Regions from separate parts of the Homo sapiens genome. Here regions 2 and 3 are each linked to region 1. The links come from fine-mapping of genetic effects on plasma protein levels. A gene starts in region 1. Each other region holds a variant in brackets. All regions are shown on one strand. Distances are between the middles of the regions. Region 1 holds the start of C4BPB (complement component 4 binding protein beta). Region 2 overlaps C4BPA (complement component 4 binding protein alpha). Region 3 overlaps C4BPA (complement component 4 binding protein alpha).

What was found. A credible set is the group of variants that fine-mapping cannot tell apart. PIP is the chance, under the fine-mapping model, that this variant and not a neighbour inherited with it causes the effect. The UK Biobank Pharma Proteomics Project read protein levels with antibody pairs (Olink). The fine-mapping took linkage between variants from a reference panel, not from the people measured, so its PIPs are less certain.
Region 2: its variant is the best candidate, but not a certain one, in a credible set for the plasma level of the C4BPB protein (UK Biobank, PIP 0.84).
Region 3: its variant is the best candidate, but not a certain one, in a credible set for the plasma level of the C4BPB protein (UK Biobank, PIP 0.78).

The regions. Positions count from the first base shown.
Region 1 is chr1:207,086,036-207,090,281 of GRCh38, forward strand. It overlaps C4BPB (complement component 4 binding protein beta), which reads left to right and starts at 2,825. Exons shown (of 7, transcript NM_001017365.3): 1 at 2,825-2,911; 2 at 3,447-3,554. The coding sequence starts at 3,497.
Region 2 is chr1:207,129,103-207,133,348 of GRCh38, forward strand. C4BPA (complement component 4 binding protein alpha) reads left to right here. Exons shown (of 12, transcript NM_000715.4): 8 at 2,444-2,638. LOC107985251 (a long non-coding RNA gene) reads right to left here. Exons shown (of 3, transcript XR_007066838.1): 3 at 1-1,172. Among named protein-coding and RNA genes, the nearest start is that of C4BPA, 27 kb to the left of the region's middle. The variant T/C (reference allele first, on the strand shown) is at 2,453.
Region 3 is chr1:207,108,559-207,112,804 of GRCh38, forward strand. All of the region lies in intron 1 of C4BPA (complement component 4 binding protein alpha), which reads left to right. Among named protein-coding and RNA genes, the nearest start is that of C4BPA, 6.4 kb to the left of the region's middle. The variant T/C (reference allele first, on the strand shown) is at 1,738.

The DNA of each region.
Region 1 (4,246 bases):
GCAGGCTTGGAAGGGGAGCAGAGGGAGGCAGGAAGGTGGTGAAGGGGGAGGTGTTGGGGAGAGGAGGAGGGAGGCAGAGAGAAGAGGAGAAATTCCTCTGTCTCTGTCTCTCTCTGATTCACTCTGTCAGTGTCTCCTCTGTCTGTCTTTTGTCTCCATCTCTGTCTCTGATGCTCTTGCTCATCCTGTGGGGAGAGAGGGCTGAGGAGGGAAGAGTGGGATTGGGGCGGGGGACAATGGCAGTGCCAGGTGGAGACTTGTCCTTCAGAGTCCCCAGACACCCCTTCCTAAGCATCTCTATCTCTCTGCATCTATCTCTGATTCTGCCTCTCCCCCAAGACCCACCATATTACTCTCTTTCTCTCTCTCAATCACTCTCTGTTTCTTTCTTTAATCTCTAATTCTAAAATCCAAAAACCTTTGAGACAAAGTTTTCTTCTAATTCATTTGACAGAAAAAACCTGACCCAAACTTTGTGATGCTATTTATTGTCTCTATAGAGCCCACTTAGTGTGAATATTTTTGTATTTTTATATTTTATGGAGAAATATTAGTAAGACAATAGTATAAGTGATATGGTTTCTAAAGTCCTATAGTTCTGAATCTGAAGTAAGCCATTAAGATGAAGAATTACTTGCAATTATTTCCTGTAATACATGTTCTATTTTATGTCCATATTTATGTAGGGCTAAACTAGATTTTCCTTCCTTTTTAAAATAATTTATTGTACAAACATTCTGTATATAAATCTATAAAAGATACTGAAGAACATGCATTCCTCAAGAAGTAGAACATGGGGTATGTAAATAAAAATTATTCAAAGCTTAGGATTAGCAAAAAGAGATCACTGGAGTAAATGCTCAATGGATTCCTGGGCATTTTCTAGCAGGCCCTCTGGAGATGATCTCTGACTGACTTTATTTAAAGTTCTTTTAGAACTCTTTAAGCATAGAGGTTAATTTGCAGTAAATTTATAGGAATGCAAATGACTCTTATCTGAGAACAATGCAAATGATTCCTGGTTATAGTAGAGCAAATATATTTTGTCCATTTTGTTTTAATTACTTTCCACCAGGTAGAAAAGCTAATTGCAAATATTACAGTTTGTTACTCTGTAGGATATTAACCAGTTTTGTATCTATTGGAAAGGTCACTTCAGAATGCTTTTGACTGACTGACTATATGCATTCCTATTCCTCAAATTCTTCTTTGAACCAGTTGTAGCATCTGAATGTTTCCTCATTAATTAATGAGTTGAATTAAATCTTTGATATATATTCATCTTATATTTACTTGTGTCATATTTTTAACTTTTTGAAAATCATGTCTTAGAGGGTGCTTACACTATAGGAATTTGCATATTAGTTAAGAAAAGATAAGACATAAAAAATCATAAGGCAGCATGTGATAAATGGCAAGTGATCATATGGATTTTGGGGGCTGTGGTAGAGTTTCTGGATGACAGTTTTTTTCATTTATTTCTGCATTACTTTCATTCATTTAACAGACAACTGCTTTGCAATATGAAGCACCGTGGAAGGGAATACAAATACAAATCAGACACAAACCCTGTCCTGGAGTTAGCAGTTTCCTGTGGGAATAAAGGGGAGGAAAAAAACACCTTTCCTCTACCATATTGTATTCAGTGGCTGGGACCTGCAAATTAGACTAAGACAGATTAACAGGAGAGAAAATTCTATTTATACATGTAACTTGAGTACATGTGGGAAAACTCAGTGATAAGTAATTCAAAAAGTTGGTTAGAATTGGGGCTTATACATCATCTTAATAGGTGAAGGTGGGGAGAAGAAAGGCACTTACAAGAAAACAGATTATTGGCCGGGTGCGGTGGCTCATGCCTATAATCCCAGCACTTTGGGAGGCCAAGGCGGGTGGATCATTTGAGGTCAGGAGTTCAAGACCAGTTTGGCCAACATGGTGAAACCCCATCTCTACTAAAAATACAAAAATTAGCCAGGCGTGGTAGCGCATGCCTGTAATCTCAGCTACTCGGGAGACTGAGGCACAAGAATGGCCTGAACCTGGCAGGTGGAGGTTGCAGTGAGCCAAGATCATGCCAAGACACCATCTCAAACAAAAAAGAAAACAGATTATTTTTTGGAAAGGCAAGTGGGTTTTCAGGGGAAAAGTAGGAAATTAGAAAGTTTTGTGATAATGTTTGTGTATATAAGTACGAGTGTTCTTTCTGTCTCCTTCAAGGCCATGAAATTTCTCTGGAGAAGGAATTTGAAATATGTTTTACTCATGCTCTCCCCTCCAGGATAGACCTACCCTGAAAAGGAATTTATGGCAACCTTATCTCCAAGGTTGCTGCCTTTAGTCAGATAAGGAAAGCCCCCAAAATCTCTGTTCCTTTCCATATCACTGAATCTCAAATATCTTCAGCTTAAAAGAATCTTAACGCCAAATATTTGGGGGTGGCATATCCTGATTCCTTTCAGGAGAAAGACATAGATTAATCATCACAAACAGTAGTAATGGATGGAGAAGAGAAGAACATTTGCAACCTTACTGTGTCCTTAATGCTTTATTATTCTATTAAAACCTGAAATTTTGTAGGAATTTTTCCCCAGTTTCATAATTACAGCACAGAGAACCAACCAAGGGTTATAGTAGTCACAAGCAAGATGATATGGGATCCCTCAAAACAATTTTACATGCCTTAATTCCTGAGACCAAAGCATTCTCCTCACCTCTCTCTTTACTCATTTGGTTAACTCTGGACTCAGGCCAAATCCTGTCCCTGGAAGAGCCACAAAGTAGGAAGCCTGGGTACAGGCCTGGCAAGCGAGAACAATGTGTCACTGCAGGACTTTGGAGCTCTCAGCTTTGGAGTCAGTTAAGACCAGTTCCTTGCTGGGAAGCCCTAACTCTGGAGGGACAGAGACAGGTAAGGTTAGTTTACTTCCTTGAGCTTTCGTCTTCAGTGCTGCTTACAGCCTTAGGATATCTGGTATTCAGGAAAGGAGGATGAGGTAGCATTCAAAATTGTGTTCTACCTGGGCAAGAACCAGGGATTGACAGCCCGTTCTCTTTCCCCAGTGCTGGCCAGAGTTACAGAAGTTGGACTGTAAACATTGGCAACTATTGACAGAAGTCAAGGTCATGGCAAGACCATTTGGCCCATGTTTGTTGGGGAAGGATAAGCCTGCGTTTCAAAAAGACTGGTCAACTGGATTTGCATTCCCAGAAACCAGGAAATTTCTGAAACTGAGTTTTAAACCTGGCAACTCTTTTACCATCCCTTTGTATTTTTGCAGTTCCTCCCTATACCAGCTTCCTTACAGCTGTTCTGATTTCCTGTCGTAAGATTTTTTCTTTTCATTTTCTCCAGGGAGGGTAAATCAATATAACCTCTTCTCTAGAGAGGAGGTGGTTAGGTTGGTCTTAAGCAGTGTTAGAAGATCTATTTTTTTTCAAACCAGGTGTCTGAGCTGGGTGAATTCCAGCCTGGGGAGAGGACTTTGATCACCAGATGTTTTTTTGGTGTGCGTGCTGTCTTATGGTTGCGTGGCGAGTTTCTGCTTCAGATGGTACGTATGCTTTCCTTCAACTCAGCTTACAGGCATTTGGTGTCCTTTTGCGGTGTTTTGAGGAACTCTGTCTAGGGCTTTAAGGAAGTTTACATTTATAATATCTTTATTCTTCTATTGAAAAATCTCAAATTGGCCTAATGCTCTGCACTCAATAGGAGCTTAGTGTACATTTAATGATAACCCTGATCTCTGAAGTGGGTGGTTACTGTTTTTTTACTTTCCCTTTCTGTTCTGGGAGCAAAAAGAGTACCAATTTCAAAATCCTGGGAGGTCTTACTTGTTATAAACTCCAGGATCGCTATTTGTGTAGGGGACTATTTGTTTAGAAGTGGACAACTTGTGGTTGAATTTGAGTAAAATTCCTGTTATACTTTTGAAAATAAAACTTCGGAATTCCGGCCGGGCGCAGCGGCTCAAGCCTGTAATCCCGGCACTTTGAGAGGCCGAGGTGGGCGGATCACGAGGTCAAGAGATCGAGACCATCCTGGCTAAGACAGTGAAACCCCGTCTCTGCTGAAAATACAAAAAATTAGCTGGGCGTGGTGGCGGGTGCCTGTAGTCCCGGCTACTTGGGAGTAGAATACAGAGTACTTGGGAAGAGCACAGGAATCAGGATCAATAATCCAGCAAAAAGACATGAGAATGGGGAAATCTAATAAGGGTTCTCTGACAGCACATGATATGCCAAG
Region 2 (4,246 bases), 43 kb after region 1:
TTATTTTAAAAAGAAATGGAAATTCTAGAGTTGAAAAACACAGTAAGTAAAATGAAAAATTCAAAAGAGGAACTCAACAGTAGATTTGAGTTGGAAAAAGAATCAGTGAATTTGAAGATAAATTGAGATTATGCAATTTGAAGCACAGAGATGAAAAGAATGAGGAAAAATAAATGGCATCAGAGAAATGTGGGACACCATTAAGTGTACCAACATATGTATAATGAGAGTCCCAGAAAGATGAGAGAAAGAGAAAGGAGATAAAAACCTATACAAAGGAAAAATGGCTGAAAATATCACAAATTTGACCAAAAAAAAAAAAAACCCAAACAAAAGAACAAAACAACACATTAATCTACATATCCAAGAAGCTTGTTGAACTCAAGTAGGATATTGCAAAAAGGTCTAGACCTTGAGACATTATAATCAAAATGTTGAAAACCAAGAATGAAGAGAAAATCTTGAAAGCAGCAAGAGAAGAGCAACGCATCATGTACAATGTAACCCCAGTAAGATTAACATCTGATTCCTTATCAGAAAGAATGGAGGCTAGAAAGCAGCTAGATGACACATTCAAAGTGCAGAAAGATAAAAACCTCAACCAAGAATCCAACAACATATTTTGCACTTACATATATTACAAACTGCACAATAAATTTTTATAATTATTGTTTTATATAATTTCATGTTTCATGTCTTTTATAGTAGCTGAGAGAAGAAAGGAGGGCAAGTATATATTTAGAGAGTTTATTATGTTAATCTTCTTATTCTTCATTTCTGGCGCTCTTTATTTCTTCCTGTAGATTCAAGTTACCATCTGGTGTCATTTCTGTACTATAATACAGCTTTGTTCCCTCCTACCTTTCTTGTGATGTTATTGTCAAATATATTGCATTTCTGTATGTTATAGGCTTAATAATGCAATTATATACATATTGTTTTATGCAATTGCTGTTTAAATCAGCTAAGAGAAGGAAGGAGTAGTAATATATATTATACTGTGGTTCAAATTACTGACATAATGACCTCTGCTGATGCTCATTGTTTTACTGTGTGGATTCAAATTACCGTCTGGTGTCAATTGCTTTCAGTCTGAACAATTTCCTTTAGCATTTCTTGTAAGGATAGCCTTCTAGTAACAATCAGATACCACTTCACATCCAGCAGAATGGCTGTAATAAAAAAGATAGACAATAACAAATGTTGGTGAGGATGTGGAAAAATTAGAACTCTCATACACTGCTAATAGGAATGTAAATTGGTGCAACCATTTTGGAAAAGAGTTTTTGCAGTCCTGCTGAAGTTTAACCATGGAGTTACCATATGACTCTAATTACCCTCCTGGGTATCTACCCAAGATAAATGAAAACATATGTCCACACACAAAAATTTTACATGAAGATTCATAGCAGCATTATTCATAATAGCCAAACAACCCAAATGCCCATCAAATGAATAATGAATAAACAAAAAGTGGTTTATCCATAAAATAGATTATATCATTTGGCAATAAAAATGAAAAATAAAAAGTACTAATGTATGCTACAACATGGATGAACCTTGAAAATATTATGCTAACTGAAATAAGCCAGTCACAAAAAGTACATGTATTGTGTGATTCCATTTATTTAAAATGCTCAGATTAGGCAAATCCATAAAGAAAAAAATAGATTAGTGGTTGTCAGGACCTAGGGGGAGGTGGAAATAGGGAGTGACTGATAATGAATATGAGGTTTCTTCTTGGGTTGATAAAAATATTCTGAAATTAGTTAATGGTGATGGTTGCACAACTCTGTATATACTAAAAACCATTGAATTGCACATTCTAAATGGGTGAATTTATTTGTTGTGACTTTAATCTGAATAATGCTGTTAAAAAAGAACTTTTATATTCCATTTCAATAATCATCCAACGTGGTAGATGTTTGCATTATATTTTCATATCATATGAATCAGTAGCATTGGGAAAGAGAGAAGAGGACAAGATCCAAGGCCCAGGCTCAAAAAATGTTTGGAGCTTGGTTTTTTTCTTGCCAAGTCATTCCTGGTATCATCTGGATGAGGGGAACGGCTCCTGTTTATTTTCCCCAATCAATCAGTAAACATAGTTAGATTTGTTTGTGACAGTTTTCCTGCCATGCTTCAGTTCAGAAACTAAAATCTCTGAAATGTAAAGAAGAGGAATGAGAATTAAAATTATTATACTTGGCACAGCACATGGAAACCACTTGGGAGTGCCCTTAGTGAAGAGCCTCTCTGGAGGTGTGCACATTTGAGCGAATGTCCATGTGTGTTTTCTGGTGTGGTTGATACATCAGGCCTTGCAGGCTGGTTCCAGGCTGAATGAACGTATGACCCCCTTTGATAGGACAGGCTTATTGACTGCTGTGGCAGCCCTAGTAATAGCGTCCTTTTGTTCTTCTTCTTCTTCTTTCATGAGTAGATAGTTGTA[T/C]TAATTTACCAGACATTCCACATGCTTCCTGGGAAACATATCCTAGGCCGACAAAAGAGGATGTGTATGTTGTTGGGACTGTGTTAAGGTACCGCTGTCATCCTGGCTACAAACCCACTACAGATGAGCCTACGACTGTGATTTGTCAGAAAAATTTGAGATGGACCCCATACCAAGGATGTGAGGGTGAGTTTTTGTTTTTTAATATTTTTGTATATTAAATGTCCAGTATGTGCTAGGATTCTCTACCTTAAATGAATATAATTTTATCCCTCACAACAAGTTTAGAATTAAGTTAATTCAACAGATTAGTAAACTGTTAGTGCCAGAAGGGGACCATAAACATGTTACAGTTTGAGGCACTGAGAAATTGTAACCTTTCCTTATCCCAGTTCAGAATCAAATGAGAAGTAGACACAGAAGTCAAACATTATGCAGATTATGTATTAGTTTTCTTACTGGTAAAACTAGAATGGAGAATACAGCTCAACTATTGTCAGAGTCAGGCTTCCTTCATAGCCCTTACCTCCCCAGTATGGGCTTTGGGGTGTTTGGCAGAAGACAAGTTTGTGAAACAGTCATGAGCGTAACCAGCTGCAGGGTGACTTGTGTCTCATGTCTCTTGAACCATGAGATGGCAGGGCTTCCTGATCTGCCTCTAGAAGACAAATCCTGACTCGTGACTGAGCATTCTCACTTCGTAAGGATAGAAAGGAGACTTCCTCCAGTTTCTCTGGTAGGAGACGCACCTCTTTTATTTGTGGAAATGAGTGAGGGACTGAACGACAAGTGGATACTATATTATGAGCCTCAGTGGAACAGACAAGAGAGGAAGAAAATGCTTTCTTCTATCCATCTATCAGAACCTTGCCACTTTAGAGGTGAAGACACTGAGGCCAAGAATACAGGGAATTTTATGCTGCATATCAGAATTTCAACAATCTGTGAAATGCATAAATAATGAAAAGTGGTAGTTTAGATCAACCTGTCAGAAGATTACTTATTTCATATTAAGACTTAACAAAGTTTAATTGCAGTTATTCAGACTCATTTTGGGGAAATAGAATAAAAGATTTTAATAAAAGGACTGAATTAAAAATATACTTAATAAAACTTACCGCCATTACTTAAATAACAAAAAGTATTGCTTATAAATGTTTAAAAACCTCCTTTATAGTTGTATTTAGGCTAGGTGCGGTGGCTCCTACCTATAATCCCAGTACTTTGGGAGGCTGAGGCGGGAGGATTGCTTGAGCCCACGAGTTTGAGACCAGCCTGGGCAATAGAGTGAGACCCTTGTCTCTACAAATAATTTAAAAAATTAGCGGGATGTGGTGGCACACGTCTGTAATCCCAGCTACTCAGGACGCTGAGGTAGGAGGATAACTTGAGGCTAAGAGGCCAAAGCTGCAGTGAGCCGAGATCATGCCACTGCATTCCAGCCTGGATGACAGAGCAGGACCCAGTTGTTTACATTTATTTGATCCCCTATGATCTTATTGATTTAATTATTTAATAAAGAATATTTTTAACCATTTTAAAAGCAGAAGTGAAGTAGTATTTATCCAAGTTATGAAACCTGATCAAATGTGAATTTAGACTCATGACTTACATATTTAAAAGTATTTTCTGCACTGCAAAGCATTTCATAAATATTATTGTTGTTTTAATATCCAAACCATATGATTGCTGAATATTTTTATTATAATTCCTAAACAAATGAGCACTGGAAGTGTTTGAGTATGTCCAAAAGACCCCATTTTAATACTGGTCGAGTTACTGACATGGAGAATG
Region 3 (4,246 bases), 23 kb after region 1:
AGTTAGCAACCAGAGTAAAGAAGACAAGCCTGAATAGCTTAAAACTTACACGGAGGAAGGAATAAGACAGAATAAAATAATTATTAACAATTGAATTTATGGAGCATGGAAGTTTTTGCATGAACCAGAGACAATTAGGCCCAGAGGTCTGTGGGTGATTCATTTTATTTATTTATTTATTTTTGAGACGGAGTCTCTCTGTCGCCCAGGCTGGAGTGCAGTGGTGTGATCTCGGATCACTGTAACCTTTGCCTCCCGGGTTCAAGCGATTAACCTGCCTCAGCCTCCTGAGTAGCTGGGATTACAGGCGTGCACCACCACACCCAGCTAATTTTTGTATTTTTAGTAGAGACGGGGTTTCACCATGTTAGTCAGGCCGGTCTTGAACTCCTGACCTCGTGATCTGCCCGCCTCAGCCTCCCAAAGTGCTGGGATTACAGGCGTGAGCTACCGCGTCTGACCTGTGGGTGATTCAGGTATGATGATTAAAGTTATGGATGTGGATGACTTCCTTTCAGGAAGATAGTTGAGGGCAAGGGAAGACAAAGCCCCAGGACAGCCCCAGAGGCCCCAGCATTCCTCTGCTGTGCATGACACATTAGATCTCACTGTACCAAAGGCCACAGTGGAGACCAGATCCAGGGCTTCTAGCCGGAAGTTCAGTGGATGCTCCTCTGCACTGGGGTGTAATTAAAGTCCCTGGTGATGCAACCATTTATTGCAATTTTAAATCATTATGATGACAATGTTTTGACATCCAGGAGTTTGGCTTCTGACAGAGTGACATTCCAATGCCAATTCTATGAAACTCTTCCCTATAATTTCTTTTGAATGTTTACTATGTGCTGTCCACACACCATGCCAAGCCCCTCTCAGAAATTCCGAGATATAATTACAGTTATCCTTCTTATTTTATAATAAAGGAAACTGAGGCTTAGAGGAACTGAGTGTTTTGTCCATGGGACTCGGTTCCCATGTGGTAGAGCCAGGACGCCAACTCACATGTTCTGGGTGTGACTCCAGAGCCCATGCCCAAGGTCTTGGCCACACTGTCCTCCTCTGTCCCCAGCTCTGTGGCCATGGCCTAGGTGTGAGGATGAAGTAAAGGGAGTGAAATAACTTCCTCATCACAGTGTAGGGTCTGCATTTGTCTGTATCTCCTGTCATAACCTGTGGAAGGAGGAGAACCAGTTTTTGCCTACTGCTTCCCTCCTTCACTGTCCTCCCTTGACTAGTTGATGATATGATGACTTCAGTTTAAGAATGGAAGAGCCTAGAGTAAAATTATTTGGGCCAGTTCTCATTAAAATACAGGTGTTTGCCTTGCTTTAAAATCAGGTAAAATCAGTCCTTAACAAAGCATACACTGTAAGGGGAGACACTGATATGGCACAGTACTACTTTTCTTTGGAACACACGTTATCACTAGGAGCTTTTGGATTTAAATTCAATGCACATTTTGTGAGCACTTTAACTTCATGAGGCGCAGGCTAGGTACTATTGTGGGGCAGAAATAAATGGGAGCATACTCTGTCATTTCAAGGATCTTGTGGTTTAGTGGTGAAGGCAGACTTCAGATGTGAGTTACAGACCAAGTCCGAATCAGAGTTATAAATACAAAATTGTACTTGGTATGTGGAGGCTTGCTTGGATAGGAGGGAATGCTGGAGAAGGGACTGGCAGAATGAGTAGGAATTAAAGAGGAAAAAGAGAGAGGGTAGATGATGTGGACAGGAA[T/C]GGGAGATAGGAAAGTGCTGGGAATGGTAAGGAATTCTGGTTGTCCAGGATAGCTGGAGCCTAAGGGGTCAGACCACAATACCGAAAAGTTAGTCATCAAAGCCAATTGAGTGAATGCCAGTACTTGAAGGATCAGTTCATAGAAATAAATTTGCTGAATTTATCAAAGTATCAATTTATCTAACATTGTTTCAAGAAACATTCATTTTGGAGGCCAGGCATGGTGGCTTATGCCTGTAATCCCAGCACTTTGGGAGGCCGAGGCGGGAGAATTGCTTGAGGCCAGGAGTTTGAGACCAGCCTGGGCAACATAGTAAGATCACATCTCTATTACAATTTTAGAAAAGAAAAAGAAAAAGAAATCATTTTGAGTATTCAATGAGTATAAATATATCCTTTTTGAATGTAGCTAATGAATACATATTTTAGTGGCATTTAAGATATTTTTGTTCAACTTCTTGAAGCTAATGATTTAATCTTATGGTTGTATTTTTGTAAATATAGTCATGAATATTTTTCTGAACATATTCAACATATATATTTTTCTTGTGAATGTAATAACAACTGCAACAATTCCTAGGGGAAATTTCCACTTTCTACTCTTATCCTTTTGATTTTTCATAGTCAATTCTATTTTGCCACCCCACTGGTGTTTTTAATCTCTTTCTTCAATTTCACTGAAATTCAATAAACACAACAAATCTACTCATTGTCAAAAATTGAAGAAACTTTTTCCCATAGTTTTCATAGTTCATAACATATCTTATTGGGTGGGAGAAATTTGTCACATTTTATGAATTTCACAGATGATGAGTGAGGTGGTTTTCATGATATGCAACCTGCCTGGCTCTCAGCTGTCTCCAGCTTCACAAGATTGTGAGGGCAGAGAGGAGCATAGAGTTAGGAAGGAGGATAATGGGAAAAAAGAGGGGGAAACTGAGTAGAAAGGGGAAGTATGAAGTCCCAGAATGTTGGTCCTGGCTCCTCCCAACCTCTCTAGACCACCTGGATTCATTCAGTACAAAGTCTGTGAACACATTTCCAGTAAGTGACTACAACTGGTAAATTGCTCGTTAGGTGAATTTACGTATTGGCAGAATTGCCCCGGTGGGGATGTATAGAGCTCATGGGACAGGACGTGTGTGACATGGGGTTCCCACAGCTGACAACAGGTGGAGGGATGGCTTCATCAGAACTAAGTTTTAGAAAGAGAAGAAGCTTATGTGAGTCTTTACTCAATGAAGAAATTAGACCCCACAAAGAATGAAGGGCACTATAAACTTCCCTTCTCCCACACAGTTTCTCTCCAAGATGTTTCAGTCCCACATTATGTAAGACTGGCCCATATTACTGAGACCAGCTTTATGTTGAGGGACTGAACATTACCTTAGATATACATTACATTACAGTCCTACATTATGTGGGACTGAAACATCTTGGGGAGAAATATTGATTGAAGGGACTCCCTTTACCTAAATGTATATGGGCTTTGTATGAATTATGGATGCACGAGAGCGTCCAACCATCTGGATCTAACAAAGATGTCAAAGTAAAGGATGAAATTCACTATTTTATGGGAGTGAATTTGGTTAACTTCATATATTCCTTTGAAGACAAGGACTATTTCTTTTCTTAATTTTTTATTTTTATAGATTTACAGTACAGAGATTTCTTAAAAAACTAAAAATAGAACTCCCCTTTGATTCCCACTATTGAGTATCTACCCAAAGGAAAGGGACTTTTTCCTAACACAAACTTAGGATATGTTGTGTTCTCCAAAGGGAATGGGAAGTGGTGATGAAGATTAAAAAAAAAAGTCCTTACTAATTTTGCTTTAAACAAGTCTATATAGTCTGATTTAAAAATAAAAGTGCATTTGCCATGTATATTTTTCATATATATATATGTGTGTGTGTGTGTTTATGATCATTTTTCAAAACTGCAAATTGCTTCATGGTTTATTGCCTTTGTCAATAGTTCTCACAAGGAACTCCCAATACTTCTATACGGCGACTCAACTCTTTCTCTCTATCCCATCATTTTCCTGCCTTTTTGTTTTTTTTTTTTTTTTTTATGTTTGTACCTTTCTTTTAAGTCCTCTGTCATTTCTTTGTTAGATCATCTGGCCAATTGCAAGTCTTCTCACTCAACCTCCCTGTTTCTTTCCTCTAATCCCTTTAATTTATCTTGTGCATGTCTGCCATAATGATCTTAAAGCATAATAATTATGTCATTCCTCAGCTTAAAAACAAACATTCACATCAAAAACAAGCACTTTTATTCCCCAAGGAGTAAAGTCTATGAATTTCCTAAACTTGACGTTTACATCCCACTCAGACACATCTGTAAACTGTCCCTTCCCCATCTCAGACATTCAGCCAAATTGGAATATTATCTATTGTTCCCTCAACATGCCCTGCATCCATTCTGCAGTGTCTTCAGTATACCTAGTGCAGATGCAGTCTCCTCTGCAAAGCCCACTCCCTCCCTCCACTTGGAATCAATCTCT